2 separate regions of the Homo sapiens genome follow, and region 1 is linked to region 2. A link means that fine-mapping ties the variant in region 2 to the expression of a gene that starts in the linked region. Tissue or cell type: tibial nerve. Region 2 holds a variant in brackets; the other region holds the start of a gene. All regions are shown on one strand. Distances are from middle to middle.

The links. PIP is the estimated chance that this variant, and not a neighbour inherited with it, causes the effect.
Region 1: TENM4 starts here. The variant in region 2 is fine-mapped to the expression of TENM4 in tibial nerve (GTEx, PIP above 0.99).

What each region holds. Positions count from the first base shown.
Region 1 is chr11:79,436,526-79,444,703 of GRCh38, forward strand. It overlaps TENM4 (teneurin transmembrane protein 4), which reads right to left and starts at 4,505. Exons shown (of 34, transcript NM_001098816.3): 1 at 3,984-4,505. RefSeq lists silencers at 4,094-4,203, 4,464-4,633.
Region 2 is chr11:79,231,830-79,240,007 of GRCh38, forward strand. The region is part of intron 2 of TENM4 (teneurin transmembrane protein 4); the gene reads right to left. Among named protein-coding and RNA genes, the nearest start is that of TENM4-AS1, 140 kb to the left of the region's middle. The variant G/A (reference allele first, on the strand shown) is at 4,903.

The DNA.
Region 1 (8,178 bases), 200 kb after region 2:
AGGAGACTATACCAAATAGAATCAGATTCTATTGGAAGAGAGTCCGTGGGAACCCATTACTCTAACACCTAGCCTTCTACCTCATATTCCAGGTCACTCCACTCACTATAGAACTATCCTTTGATGGTTCTTGTTCAGACCAAGCACTAGTTCTGCCCGTTGGCATCCGCACTGGTCAAGGCCGGTCTATTAGGGTGGCTGATCCGCTTACCGCACCACTCTACCTCCACCCCCAAACAGAGGCCTTGATGAAAACAAGATGAGAGCAGAGGAAGAACCCAAGAACTCTTTCTAGAAAACCAAAGCTCTCCGTCCCTGATCCCTTCCCCCACCACAGAAGATGGCAATTCCACAAGCCTTCCGCACCCTGCCCTCCCCTCAGTTCAAGACACATGCTGGAAATAAAAGCTTCCCCGAATTAGCCCCCTAAAAGCACACAAACATCTATGCCCTAAGTCCTGGCTGAATATCTTGAGGACTTTCAGTTCCCCAAACATTTCCAAGGACCTACGGCACACAGGTGCCGCTAAAGGAGACACCCGTTCACTCCAGGCAATCAGCTCCAACAGGTCCAGTTCCACTAAGTGGAAGGGCTTCCCGTCAACACCCTCACCGGAGAAAACGGATTCCTCCTCAGCATTCCCTTATAACACCTGGAAAGGGGAAACCTGTTTTTTGTGCTATGTGTGACTTCGCTGCAAATCTCTCTGCTCCCCAACACATGCACACACACACACACAGGCGCGCAGAAAACTAGTTCCCACTGTCACCACCAGTGAAAACACCCCTCGTAACTTTGACGAGAAGGGCTCCCCCGCTGAAAGCCCAACTGCAGAGCGCCCGGAGCGCGCTGTGAGTCCGCAGGAACGCGGCCGGGCCGGGGACGGGAGAAAGGCGCGGCCGGGACCCTGCACTGTGCCGCGCGGCGCTTGCGGCTGGAACTTGGCCTGGAACGCGGTCTTCTCGGCTCCAGTTTCCCGCCCAGGCCCCGCCCACCCGGCCGCCCCGCTGGTTCGCACCGCTGCTCCGGCCACCGAGGAGCCCAAAGTTGGCGGCGTCCCGCGGACTCCGGCGGAGAGCGCGAGGGAGTCGCGGCCGACTCCTGTACCACGAAGACAACTGGAGGCCGGCGGGGGAGGCGGGCCACGAGGGGCTGGGGCGAGGGAGCTGGGATGCGCGGGCCCGGCTCGCCGGGAAACAGGTTGCCGCGGAGTCCCGTCCCCTCCCCCTCTGCGGTCCCCGCCGCGACCTGATTCCCGCCCTGCCCGGGGAGCTAACCCAGCCGCCTCCGGGGCGCCCTCCTTCTTCCTGGATTCCCACGGCTGGACCAGAGCCCCTCTGGCAGCCGGGTTAAAGGCTCCTTCAGCAAGGTCAAGGCGCGGCCGGCTGGCACCTGGGGATTTTTTTCCAGCCGAGCACTGGCTTTTCAATCGCATTGTTAAGGATCATGGCAGCGGCAGGAAATCCGAAGGGCCCCACAGGTCTGCGGGAGGGAGGATTTATTTTACAGCAAGGAACAGATTCAGACAGATCGGGGATTTCAGTGGGAGGGGACGAGAGGTTTCAGGACGCTGGAATGTGGCAAAAACAAAACACTCCCCACCCATGCACATCACCATCTCCTGACTGCGGGCTGGGGGGAAGGGAGTTCAGGGCCAATGTGTCCCAGACTTCAGCGTTCCCCACGGCTGTGTCAGGGCTGGGGTGGCTTATCCCCCTACAGACGAAAATCAAGATTTAAAAGCATACTCTTACTGTGGTTTCTCTATCAAAGCCCATCAACGTGATACACAGGCTGCGGCGCTGGAGGGAAGCGGCGAAACGGGGAGAATAAACGCAACAGAAGCAAACTGCTGTCTGCAGAGGCGAGAGGCGAAGGAACGGAAGCCATACCCGACCCCAGCCCCATCCCGTCCCCATCAGCGCCGGGCTAGCGCAGGAAACCAGGAATAGGTGTAGGTAAGGGTGGCAGCCCGGCAGAGCCAGCGTTCTACTCCCTCTAACCCCTCGCCAGCGTGGGCCTGGATGGCTGGGCTGCCTGGGCATCTCCAAGGGGGACCAGGCACCGCGGGCAGGTTTCTAAACACGTGAAGGGCACAGGGCTTGAAAGACAAGGAGGGGCGCCCAGGAAGGGCGGAAAAGAGGGGCTTTGGGGCTCCCCAGGACACCAAGTCAGTTTCTGAAAACGGCGTTCCCTGGAAGGCCTTCCAACACCTCCGAGGGAAGACTTGGAGCTCTGAAGACCCAATGAAACCTCAGTTCTGACTGACTCCTCCTCTGCGATCAATTCCGGATGCCCCCACTTAGTCCCTGCCTCGGTAACCGGTTCTTTGGGGACAGCAGCATCAGCACCCGACGCCCATCGCACAAGTGGGCGCCGTGGTGCGAGGCGTATCCTAGCTACCCAGGCCGGGGTGGGGGCGCCCCGGTACTTACACTCCCCAAGCAGGCAAACTTTCAGGCTTGTCTTTCGAGAACCGGGAGCTCGCATCACAGTTCCGGGTAATCACCGAGGCAGCTTATGTAATTGCCCGCGATGCCGCTCAGCAGATCTCTCTCCTTACTCGGCCTCAGAGCTCAGTACATGGGCACCCTCTTCCCCCCACCCCCCACCCCGGCGATTGGAATCCCGAGCTTGCCCCACCACCGCCTTCTACAAAGCAGCGGGGTGATCTCGTGTGCTACAAACACCAAGCCAGTATGCAGGTTCAGGCAAAACTCTGGCTGCCTCCCTGCGCCCCTTTCACTGCGTCGATGGTTTACAGATAACTGCATTTCTATAAACCCTCTCTCCACGGTTAGGGGGTGGGAGGGAGTTAGAGATCGGGTGGGGGCTTGGCGCGGTACTGTTGAGGGCTCTGCACCCAACTGAGCAGTAATACACTCATCCACATGGACGCGGGTGCATAAATCGCCTTAACATTTTGCCCTGAAAGCGGAGCCAATTTCCAAAGTTAAGGACCACGCAGCTGAATTTCCAGTACTTTCCAACCTCGCCTAGGCGGGGGCAGGCAGAGAAGGGGCGGGCAGCGGGCAGCTAACTCGCCCGACCCCCCCGCCAAGAAGGACTCACTAGGTGAACCCCCCGCCCTTCACCCAAGTAGTTGGTTGTGTATTCCTCGGTTGCGTGTGTGTGTCCACACACACACACACACACACACACACACGCCGCCCCACTACCTTCCAGTCTGCTCCTCCAATGTAACGACCGCATTTAAAAATGGCAATTAAAATGACTGAGGAGCTCGGTGATCACATTTCAACCCAGAGCACATTTCCCGAAGCTGGGGGTGAGAGTAGTCATACAGTCACACTCACACCCGGGAGCCCTCCAAGCGTCCATCTGGCGGCTGCAGCCTCAGTTGGCTCCTAGACGAACATCAATACCGCGGCCGGGCGCCCGGTGAGGAGAGGCGGGCGCCCCGCGGGTTGCAGAGGGCGAGGAGCTGGGGTCGCATCTCCAGGATCTGAGCTCCAACCACCGCCCGTGCGGGGCTGCTGCAGCCGGCACTTGCCCCGCAGGGCAGGCTGCAGCCGCTGAAGCCCGGCGCCGCCTCGCGGGCTCCTCCAGCGCCCGACGGGGGCCTGGGGCGAGCTAGTCTGCAGAGGGGCTGCAGGCGACCGGGCCGGGGCGGGGAACGGGATCCGGGAGAGGCAGACGAACCTGGGGCGCGCCGCCTCCCTCCCACCCGCTTCCCACCTCCCTGCCCTCCCCCAACCCTTGCTCCCAGGCTCCAGTCCGCGGCGGGCTCCGGGGGCTGCGGCGGCTCCAGGCTCCAGAACAGCTTGCCTCTTCGGCCACCCGCGCCCTAGCCTCCCTCCTCCTGGGCCAGGGGAGCAAGCAAACATCTCCCGGAGCCCTCGGCAGCCGCGTGAGCTACCCGAACCCTGCCCGGGCCAGCAGTGCAGAGGGCGATGGAGCTGGCGAGGCGTCGCCGCGGTCCCCAAGGCGCTTTTCCGTAGAGCGGATCACGCCGCCTTACCGTGGCTGCAGGCTGCTACCGCCGGGGAAGCGGCGAGGACGGCGGCAGGGAGGCAAGGCGCCGCGCCGGTGGCTCCTCTCTCTCTCGGCGGCGCGGCTCCTCTGCTCCGCGAGCCGTAGCGGGGCGCCCAGGAAGGAGCAGGTCCGGGCTCTGCGCTCAGCTCCAGCGAGACCAACAATAGCTCCCGCGGGGAGCGGAGCCCCAGCGAGCCTCCAGCCGCGCGCGCACGACCGGCTCCCGCTCCCGGCCGCTCCCGGCCGGCGTCCCTGCCAGCACTGCTGCCCCACATGAAACAGCTGCAATCCCGAGGCTTCTGGGGGGTTGGGGCGGGTGTGTGCGCGCGCGTGTGTGAGTGTGTGTGTGTGTGTGTGTGTTTAATAGCTTCCCTTCTCTTCTTCCCCTCCCTGCCTGCTCGCCTGCCTGCCTCCGTCCCCCACCCTCGCTCTCTTACACACAGAAAGAGAGGGCGAGCGAGAGAGAGACACACACACACACGCACACGCACACGCAGGTTACATGAATGGGAGGCGGTAGCCAATCCTACGAGGCCGGCGAGCCGCGCGGCGCACTGGCGCTGGGAGCAGGGCCGCACTCCGGCGCGGGGGGGCGCCACGCAGGTGATGGGCGCCTCTCCGGGGGCCACGCGCGGCCGCTCCCTCACCCCAGTCTCGGTTCCTCTGTCTCCTTCCCCCTTCCTCTCCGCCGCCTTCTCCATCTTCTCTCCTTTTACCTCCTTTGCTTTCTCGAGTTCTCCGAGCTCTCTCAGTTCGGTATCTTTCTGGTCTCTTTCTTCTTTTACCCTCCTTGCTTGCTTTCTCTTCCCCTTTCTGAAACTTTCTCTTTTCCTTTCTGGACTTTCTTGTACTTCCTCTCCTCTTGCCTTTTGTTCTTTCCTCCTCCTTTGGCTTTCTCTCCAGGCTCCCCGTAGCACGGTCTCGTCCCCTCTCCCTCCTCTTCGCCTTTCCCTGGGTCTCTCTGGCGCCCAGGGCCTCCCTTCTGCCTGCTCGCTGGATGTTACTCCACACCCCCCACCCCAACACTTTTCTAGGGACGGTCTCTTTCAAGTTGCTACTGCAGCACAATCAGAGTAATTAAGAGCTGAGATCTTGAGTTCCTTCTTCAGGCATGCAAGATGCCCAAAGAAAGGCCCTCCTTCCTCGGACAACTTCCCCAAAACCATGGTAACAGCTACTGAGTCGTGATAACAATCACTTAAAAAATAGCAGTGATTGCGGTCCAAGAGATTTCTGTCCCTCGAATGTTTGGATCGTGATGGCAAGCACATTTCCAAGAGAAGGGCATTTTTATGTGATGAGAGCGGTAGTTTGACTGAGTGGCAACTTGGAAGGGCTTTGGGGAAGAGACTGGAGGAATTCCCACTCCAGCCCTGCTGCCTGCTGGCTAAAGGACTTAGTGCGAGCCATTTCCCCTTACCCGGCTTCAGTTTTCTCATCTATAAAATGGATGATACCGACTTCACCAGTTTTGGTGAGGATTAAAAGAGAGAACAATGGAAAGAAAGCACTGGGTGTATATGAGATGCTTAATTTATGTTAGTTTCCTTCTTTAAGACAACTTCCTTCATGATCTTCTGCTACAGTGTGTCTCTCTGATCTAAAGTAGTCAATGAAGGAGGAAATGTGACAATGCTAATTTCACATAAATGTGAAAGGAGGGGTAGGCTATTTTGAAAACTCTTCTGTGTGGTGAGGAGACTGTCTAGCCAGTTGCCATATGCTGATTATAAAGGCATCACAGATTATAAACGTGGGGTGCTGGAATGCCCCTTCAACATCTCATAACTAGGGCATCTCAGAAAGGCAGGGATGGGTTGGGGTGGGTGGGAAGTTTCCACACAATCTGTCCAATCTATTTTTAAAATCTTTATGATAAGTGTACAGTGACCAGTGACAAAGCCTCTGAGATTAACTAAAATGTCAAGTCTCTGCCTTTGAATAGCATTTATCAACTTTGTGTCCTCACTGCAGACATCAAATGCTGGGCATCAGCTGTGATTGGCAGTTAGATTTAGTCCTTCAACAAATATTTCTTGACCACCTACTTTGTGGCAGGTGCTGTGATAGGTCTCGGCATTCAGTGGTGAGACAAACAGGCCCTGTTTTCTGAGCTTACAGTTCAGTAGGCATGTTTCATGAATGTACACTGAGAAAATGAGACACATGTACCTGAAGGAGTAACATTGGTTTGGTGGACAAATTCTTTCATTACAGAAGATCCAAGACAGGGAGTATAAGAAAGGGATCTTTGAGAGTGATAATTTTGCAAATCACTTTCAGTCTATGCATTTCATTTGACCAGTGAGAAAAATGAGACCCAGATGCTAAAAGTAGTGGGTGAAAGTATGTTGAGAAACAAAAAATATATATAGGTTCAAAGTATCTGCCCACATGATACTGATTAATTTCAAAGGGGAAAATAGTAACTTTTCAATAGAAAACCTGAAAGACTCCACCTTGAGTGATTAAAATCAGTATTAGCAGGAATGTGACAAATAGACATCAAGTGGCCCCTGATATAGTGCACTGGGAAGGACATATCACTTCTGTGATATTCCTGGTAGACATGAATAACCTGAATCTAATCATGAGGGATGCCCAATGGAATTGTTGGGAGTAAGGGAAGACTTCCCATAGGAGATGACAGGTTCTCACTCTGTCATCCAGGCTGGAGTGCAGTGGTGCCATCTTGGTTCACTGAAGCCTCAACCTCCTGAGCTCAGGTGATCCTCCCACCTCAGCCTCTTGAGTAGCTGGGACCACAGGCATGTGCCACCACACCACGCCAAACTAATTTTATTTGTTTGTTTGTTTGTTTTACAGATGAGGTCTCACTATGTTGCCCAGGCTGGTCTCAAATACCATCAATCCTCTGCCCTAGGCTTCCCAGAGTGCTGGGATTATAGGTGTGAGCTACCATACCTGGCCTTGAGCTGAGTTTTGAAGGCAAGGAATTAGCTAGACCGTGAAAGGAGGGGAGATGCTTTTTAGGTACAGGCAATAGTATGATGACATGGACAAAAGCATGAGACACTCATAGCAGAGTTGGACATATTGGGGGAGGGTCTTGGAGGAGTCTAGATGAGTCCCTAGCATCTAGGATTGGATTTTGACAGGGCCTGAAGGAGGCTAAGGATCCAAACATCCTGAAAGTTCAGGTACTGGGGCAGAAGGAGGGTAGACAGTTAATAAAGGCTTTTAAGAAGAGGAAGGATGTGATCTTGAGTGTGTTTTCAAAAGATGATTTGGCAGCAGTGTAGAGAAATGGATTAACTGGGGTGACTTAGGAAGAGTAGAGGCAGGAAAAAGTAGGTCATTTAGGGAAACTAAGGCAGTTGCAATGAAGCCAGAAAAGGGAGGAGAGATTTGAGAGAGATTGAGGATGATTTTGATTTCTGATTGGATGGGGGTAGCAAGGAGAAGCCCAAAGTGACACTCAGTTTTCAAGCTTGGGTATCTCAATAGAAGGTGGTACTACTCATTGCGATGTCAAGAGTATTCAGGAGGAAGTAGAATTCAGGGAGCATTTTAGAGGGGGGAAAAAAGGTCAGTTGCTACCATGTTATAATCTAACTCTATAGCTAACCGGAGATTCTCCTATATGGCTGCTCTGTGCCATAGGAAACACTAGTTGTAAAATTCAGCCTAAGACCTCCAAACAGCCAGCTCTACGTATTGCCCAGAAAAACAGGAGATTGGATATAATGACAGTACATTATTTGTAATAATGGGAAAAAAATTGAAGCAGCCTAAATGGTCAAATAAAATAAGTAAACTGGAGGACAGCCTTTGTTGGAATATTATGCAGCTACTCGAAAGTGTTTTTGCAGTTTTTCGTGCCATAAAAAAGTTAGTATTGTCATATATAATATTTTAAAAGAGAATTCAAAATTGTTAGCTACATAAAAACCCTCTTGCAGAAAAGTCTGAAGAAAAAAATGCCAAATATTAACCGTGTTTTCTTCTGGGTGATGGGGTTATGAGTAATATATATTTTCTTCTTTATACTTTTTCTGGCATTTTATAATCTTCCTACTATAAACATTCATTATTCCATTATAAAAACTTTTTAAAGCTGCCATTAAAAAAACACAAAGACATGGCTATGATCATTCCCCCTCCCCTGACTTTATCCCTTTTCAATCCACCGTTCCCACTCCCCCTGAAGAGTAACTGCG
Region 2 (8,178 bases):
AGCACTTTGGGAGGCTGAGGCAGGGAGATCACTTGAGGTCAGGAGTTCAAGACCAGCCTGGCCAACATGGTGAAACCCCGTCTCTACTAAAAATAGAAAAATTAGCCAGGCGTGGTAGCACATGCTTTTAATTCCAGCTACTTGGGAAGCTGAGGCAGGAGAATTGCTTGAACCCAGGAGGTGGAGATTGCAGTGAGACAAGATCATACCACTGCACTCCAGTCTGAGGGACAGGGTGAGACTGTCTGGAAAAGAAAAAAGAAAAAGCAAACAAAACAAAACAAAACAAACAAAAAAATAAATAAAACCCCACTACTCCAAGAGGGGAAGTTACTGGTCCAAGGTCATAGAGCCAAGGGTTCCAACCCAGTTCTTCAGGGTTCTGGGTCATGCTTTCTGTGGAGTCAGTAATGTGTAAGGGGCCCTGAAGTGAAGCTGGTGAGGACTGTTTCAGATAGTACAGAGGCTAGCAGGACGCATGAAGAAAGGGCAGGTTAAGGCCAAGAGAGCATGCTGGGGCAGAGTCTTCAGGCGCAGAAACCCTGCACGGGCAGCCCCAGCCTGTGCCCCTCCTTTTCCTTACTTCTGAACCCAACATGCACTGACCCCATCTGCATTCAGCAGTGACTGCGAGTGAGTTTTCCATTTCTTTGACAGATGATTAGAAAAGCAGGAGGTGGCAGCTGGCCCATTTATTATCTGCTCCTACCAGGCACTCCAGGATGATGGGCAGATGTGGTGAGGCAGGAGCTGCTGAGTGCATCCCAAAACAATTCGCCATCCACACACTCAACAGGCACCAGTCCAGTGAATTGTGCTAATATTCAAGACACATTGTGTCCAGAACACAGGGAGAATATAAAGGAATTTCTCCAAGGGTGATTCCGAACTCTTGTGGGTGAGCAGTGTCTGGGAGAATAAAATTGCTGTTTGGATAGATCCTCAGTCAGCCAGAAAAGGAGGTGAATCAGTGATCTGGTTGGAGGTTGGAACCTGGGCAAAAGCTCACCAGGACACCCAAGTGAGGTCAGGAGAGTGGAGTGGTTTAGAGCTCCCTGCCCATGGCACTCCCTTGGTTAAAACTGTCCGGGGTGTACCATTGCCAACAGGTGAAATTCCAGATTCACAGCACAAAGCACTTCATGGTTTGGTCTCTGCCTTGCCAGGAACCACCCTTCCCTCTAGGCTTGTTGGGCATTTTTAGCTCCCCACATGGGCAATGCAGGGTCAAGCCTTTGTATATGCACAGTTGCCCTGACCCCATGCCAGCCCCTCTAGAAGCCTCCGCTGAGGCTGCCAGACTGAGTCAGACGCCATGCCTTGGGTTTCCCTTCCCAAACAATGTTATTTACTAACATATCTCTCTCCACCACTACAGACTGGTCTATTTCTTATCTAGCTCTGCATCCCAAGTCTAGCATGAACTCTGACACATAGCAAATATGCATATATTCAGTAAACATGTATTGGACAGATGGAAGGTTGGGTGGCTGGTTGGATGGTTAAAGTACATGTTTGACAAAGCTCATCTATAATTATACAGAAGATGGGGGCAGAAAGGGAGCTATGAAGACCAGGGAGGAGGCTGCTGCAAAGGTCTAGATTGTGGAAGAGGCAGGGGGACGGGAAGGAGGAGGGGACTTGAGTGAGGATGGTAGATGAACTTAATAAAACCTGGTAAGTGATGGCACAGAAAGGGTGAGAGAGCTGTGCCTGAGGCTGACCCCTGGTTTCCAGATGGAGCAGAATGTGAGGCACTTAGGCAAGACAGGGAGACACGGACCCAGGTGTTAGTACTTCATATTGGTGGGGCAAGGCGGGGGGCTGTGAATGGGGAGAGGAGATCGCCAGTTGGGGTAGAAGCAGGCCTGTGGGCCAGTAGAGCCCTGGTATGTATTCCTACCCCACCTCCAGGTGGCCCTTTGTGAACTTTCAGTGGGCAAACCTTGGTTAAGATGGCTCAGAAATAGAGTTTACATGATTCCAGCAAATAGAAGGCTCTTCTGGCTTAGCCATGGTCTGGATCCTTCCAATGAGCGAAAAGGAAGAGGCCCTTTCAATAGGTTGTACTGAAGGGTGACATCCCTGAACTCACCTCCCACATGGCTGTGTGAGGGGAAGCATGCAGTTACCTCTGCAGTGTGATGGATCCCAACGGAGGTTGTTCAATGTAGTGCAAAGAGCACAGAGTTTGGACTCAGGCAGACCTGGGTTCAAATATGGCGTTTGCTACTCAACAGCCAAGTAGACTTGGGCAAGTCCCTTCATTTCTCTGAGACTTGTTTCCCTATCTGTAAAAGCAATAAAACCCACTTTGTACTGTAAATGTTAATTGAAATAAGCTTGCATATGCCTGGCACTTTCTTCCCTTTGACCTTCTTTTCCTCTGAATGCTTCATTCATCATTTGAACAATGGGGAGAAAATTGCTATAAAGAAGCCTGTCAAGTACTTATTGGGTATTTGATATGTGCTGGGCACCCTGAAAGCTATAGAAAAAGCGAAGGGAAGGTTTGGCCCTCTATGGACCTGAAATGATGAATGATATTGGCATGCATTCCCTGTATAGGCATGTGCATCTTATGTCAGTTCTTACTGGCTAAGAGGCCTCGGGCAATTCACTGCATGGGGCTGAGCTCAATTTCTCCATTAGCTCACAAAGGCCTGTTAACCTCTGTACCAAGGGCTGCCCTCAGGCTGGGATGAGATCACTTATGGGAAAGCATGGTGGGTGGAGGGTGAGGGCAAGGAAATGCTCAGGGAAGGTCCCATGTGCTCCCTTCTTCCACCTCTGCAGAGTGGCTTTCCTGGGAGTTCTCAGAGGCTCCTTTCTGCTTTCTCATTTAAACACTTAATGGGTCTCATCCTTTTAAGTGACACCTGCTGGAACTGTAATTGTGCACATAATTGCTACGTGGGAATGGAGGTGGGTTTATTTCCCAGCGCTAGTGCTTCCCTTAGGAAAAGAAACAGTGTACCCATGAATACGTTGCCTGTGTCCTTGGAGTGGGGCCCGCAGTGAGCCTTTTCCCTGGATGCGGGGCACCTGGCTTGCGGGGTCTGGCAAGGTAAGAAGAAAATATCTACTGAAGCATTGAACTTTCCAGAAACCAAATATCTGGCATTGGGCTCAGTGAAGCCACAGGGCCTTGTTAAAATACCAAGAGGGAAGACTAAAAATCCCATCAGAAGTCTCCCTGACTGGCCAGGCGCGGTGACTCATGCCTGCAATCCCAGCACTTTGGGAGGCTGAGGCGGGTGGATCATGAGGTCAGGAGATAGAGACCATCCTGGCTAACACGGTGAAACCCCGTCTCTACTAAAAATACAAAAAATTAGCCAGGCGTGGTGGTGTGTGCCTGTAATCCCAGCTACTCGGGAGGCTGAGGCAGGAGAATCGCTTGAACCTGGGAGGCAGAGGTTGCAGTGAGCCAAGATATCGCGCCACTGCACTCCAGCCTGGGTGACAAGGTGAGACTCCGTCTCCAAAAAAAAATGAAGTCTCCCTGACAAGCATTCCAGTCAAATTCTGAGAGACAGGGTGGCCCCCCTGTAGAGTACAAAGTGAGAGATGCAGGGTTGAGACCTGGGACGGATGAAGCTCCTGCTGCTCTCTTCCCTAGTCATGCGGCCTGACACAGGGGAGGTGCTCAAGATAGGGACCCTAGGACCTCTGTAATAACACTAATGATAATCGTTAGCATTGTTGGCAAGACTGTTGTTAATGATTGATCAAATGGAACTCAAGACAGGAAGGTTTGGGAAGGCAGAGAAATGGGAACTAAAAGCTGGACCAGGGGACAAGAAAACAGGCCTTAGTGTCAGCCTCCACATAGCTATAAATACATCAACGTATGACTATAAATAGTTATACAAGTGCATAAATGTATTTTGAGCTCTTCAGGTTCAAAAACTGATCACTGGTCTGTGGCTCTATGGAAACGACTCTTTTCCTCATAATGAACACTCCCTTCTCCAGGCCCCCTTGCCCTCCTTTCTTTGAGCTTTCCTAGATTTATCTGAACTCTGGTAAGAATGAGGACTTTTTTTTTTAGCTGAACTTGTTTTGCTTGTTTAGATGGATTCTTTCGTGCCCTGATGCCTGAGGTTCAAGCTCTTCCTTCTGTGCATTCATACAATGCATAGGAGAAAGCCGCTGCTGCCCTGTAAACAATGCGCTCCTCTTCCAAAAGTGTCTGCATTTCTGTTTTCGGGAGACTTGATTCCTGTAGGAAGGATACTCAGGGTTCACGGTCCCTGGCCTATATGGTACTCATTTGGGGAGTGAGAGGCCTCTGATGCTGCCATGAAACCTCCATTACCTGATACCGTATGGAAAAAAGGTATATAATCAATAATAACACAGAGTACATGAGTCCCCAGATTTCCACGTCTCAGTCCTGTAGCACAAATTGTAAAGGGAAAATGCACCTCGTTATTTGTGGAAATCCTTCGGATGCCTGTTTGAGACATTCCTGCCTTCTAGTCGAAGTCTCCTGAATGCAATCTAAACTTTCCTTGATGGCTAAGGATCACGCACAGCTATTCTTTTTACTCTGCTCTATTACGCTGATGCCCTTTGTGACTACCTTCTGCAGGGTTATTTGCTCCTAAATGAAATGGCCCCAGCATCATTTCATGCTTTTGAAGTTTCTGCGCTCTCTCTTTCTCGCGCTGTGATCTTCTCCCTGACTGTCAGCACTCCAGTATCACTTTGTGCTCGCTTTGTTGTGCTTGTGTCGGATGGTGAGCGAACCCTCAGAACACAACTGTACAGCAGGACTTGGCTCACTGGACTCTCATTATCTGGCCACATCTGCAGCAGATACCAAATACAGGCTTTCTCAACACCCACTTCAACCTCCTTCCAGTGTGCTTTCTTTTCCACGAGCCTAGACAGCTG[G/A]AAACAATATACTGACTCCCTTGCGGCGAGACCCAAGTTCTATGGAGCAAATGCACCCACAGGATTGTAGAGGGCGGATGTTGTTACAGGAGGTGGTGACTATGCTCGGGTGCACTGGATCTTCCCACCCACACAGTGGTGGAGGTGTTTGTTTATCTGGACAGCTGTGGCGTAGGCTCTGCTGTCTGGTTCCCGGAATGTTGAGTCCCAAGGAGTGAGACAAAGGGGATTCCGTTAAAGGAGCCCTATGCCATGCCAGGTACTTCTCTGGTTCTCTGGCAGCCAAGCTTGAGTCCCTGGCATTCCTGAAAGGTTTGCAGGCCATCTAATATCCTGTATTAAATCCTTTTCTGTTTAAACTAGACAGAATAGATTCTGTTGTCTGAAACTAAGAACATTGACTGAGCCAACACCCGTCTGTCCCAAAACTGTAAGCTCCTTAAAGAGAAGAGATTTTTTTATGTCTTTATCTCCCCTATGCCCCAAACATACATTGCGCCTTAAAGACCTGTATTAACTGGATGACTGGACTAAGACAGGGTGGAGAGACAAGCTCCTCCGGAGGCCCCACCCACCACTGCCCTGATGCCCTGCTACAGTTCTGCTAATGCCTGGGAAATCAGATCACCTGGCTTATTAAACTCTGGTATAAAGTAAACATAGGGCCTGGCATGGTGGCTCATGCCTATAATCCCAGCACATTGGGAGGCCGAGGCAGGCGGATCACCTGAGTTCAGGAGTTTGACACCAGCCTGGCCAACATGGTAAAACCCTGTCTATACTAAAAATACAAACATTAGCTGGGTGTGGTGGCAGGCACCTATAATCCCAGCTACTTGGGAGGCTGAGGCAGGAGAATCACTTGAACCTGGGAGGTGGAGGTTGCAGTGAGCCAAGTTCGTACCACTGCACTCCAGCCTGGGCAACAGAGCGAGACTCCGTCTCAAAAAAATAAAAAAATAAAGTAAGCACAAACAAATCAGTTGTGAGTGTGGGTTGAGAGGATTTCGTATCACAAAAATCTGAAGACTGCAGTGCACGGCCAAATAGAAATGTGTTTTGTCGGCTCAGAGGCTCTTTTTCGTTTCCTGCTTGGCTAGCTCTCTGCTGCATTCCAAATAGCTGAGGGACTTCCAGATAATCAAAGTTCTCTAACCATACACACTGTTAGTAACTCCTTTCAGCCCCCTTCCTGTCCAGATGTACAAAGAGAATAGCAAAGGGAAAAAAGCCCAACACTTCCTCGCTACAGCCACCGAGCTGCTAAATCTCAGCAGTTCTGAATCATCACATCTTGCATTTCTCATTAACTGCCCCTCATATGCAGCATTTTCAATTAAGCTGGGAGCACTGCTGTACTAATTATGTTATGATATTTGTCCCCGCAGATTAATATGCACTCACGGTTTGGGAGTGCTGTCTGAATTGTATTTCTCTATTTACCTGTAAGGAAGCCCTTCCTTGACTTGTCCAGCTGTCCTGGACTTGGGGACTCAGGGGGATGGGACCTGTGAGGGTTAATTTCATGTGTCAAGTTGACAGGGCTGAGGAATGCCCAGATATCTGGTTAAACATTATTTCTGGTTGTGTCTGTGAGGGTGTTTCTGGGAGAGATTGGAGACCCCCCTCAACAATGTGTGTGGGCAGCACTCCGATCCCTTGAGGACCTGAATAGAACAAAAAGGCAGAGGGAGGGTGAATTTGCTCTGTGCTTGTGCTGGGAGATCCATCTCCTCCTGCCTTTGGACATGAGAACTCCTGGTTCTCGAGCCTTTTGACTCAAACTGGGACATATTACACTGGCTCCCCTGGTTCTCAGGCCTTAGGGTTTGGGCCAGAACTACACCACTGGCTTTCCTGGGCCTCCTGGAAGGTGGCAGATCATGGGTCTTCCAAGCCCTCATAATTGCCAAACCTTCATAATAAATCTCTTTCTCTCTCTCTCTCTCTCTCCTGTTGGTTCTGTTTTTCTGAAGAACCCAGACTAATACAGGACTCAAGAATTAGGTGCAGGCCAGGCACAGTGGCTCACACCTGTAATCTAACACTTTGTGACGCTGAGGTGGGTGGATCACCATAGGTCAGGAGTTCAAGACCAGCTTGGCGATCGTGGTGAAACCCCGTTTCTCCTAAAAATACAAAAATTAGTTAGGTGTGGTGGCACATGCCTGTAATCCCAGGTATTCAGGAGGCTGAGGCATGAGAATCGCTTAAACCTGGAAGGCAGGGGTTGCAGTGAGCCAAAATTGTGCCATTCCACTCCAGCCTCAGTAACAGAGCAAGACTCTGTCTCAAACAAACAAACAAACAAACACGCAAAAAGAATTAGGTGCTCTCAGTTGAGCTCTGTCTGCAGAGACAGCTCTGGTTGCAGAAGGACATGATGCCATCAAGTCACAGGTGAAACATCACAGGGCCCTCTAGGTGGGGCCACATTTTATGTTTCCTCTGCACCTCCACAGAGCCTTGTGCTCATCAGATATGCTCAGTTAACACTTTCTCATCAAACCAGTCTTGAAAAGTCCTACTGAAGAAACACGACAGGAAGCAATATGCTTTTTATCAAAAATATGTCTCTCATCCACGAAAAATACAACCAGAAGGAAAAGGGAGTCATATTTGCTGCTGTATATTCTGAGTCAGACACTTCCAAAATACCTTGGCTCATTTAATCTTCCCAAGTATCTTGTGAGGCAGGTGTTACCCTCATTTTATAGATGAGATGAACTGAGGTTCAGGAAGGTTAATTGCAGAGTGTGGGACCAACTTAGGAGATGGCAGAGACCTGGATGCATGAACTCAAGGGCCCATGCTCTGTCCAGTGCACCATCATTCATTAACTCTGGGATGATGGTGCATTGATAGGGATGGTGCATCACAGAGAAATACAAGACATGTGTCCCTGTGCTCAAGAAGAACAAAAGAAACTAACAGTCGTTTGCTACTAATAATCACTAATCATTGACATTCATTCAGCACCTACTATTCCTGGGGCACTCTGCGGAGTGTTCTACATGTTTTGTTCTCATCCTAGACCTGTGGGCTAAACATCATTACCCCATCCCAGGAATGAGAAAACTGAGGCTTGGGCACTCAGGTATAAAAGATAGGAAAGACCACGCGCAGAGCTAAGGGACCACGTGACTTTGGGTAAGTCACTTCAGAACTCTCCAGGCCTGTTTCCTCCTTCAAAAGGTAAGAACAACCGATTGTTGCAGCAATCAAATGAGCAGACATATGTGACATTATACTGCTGATTATCAAAGCCTTTCCAAA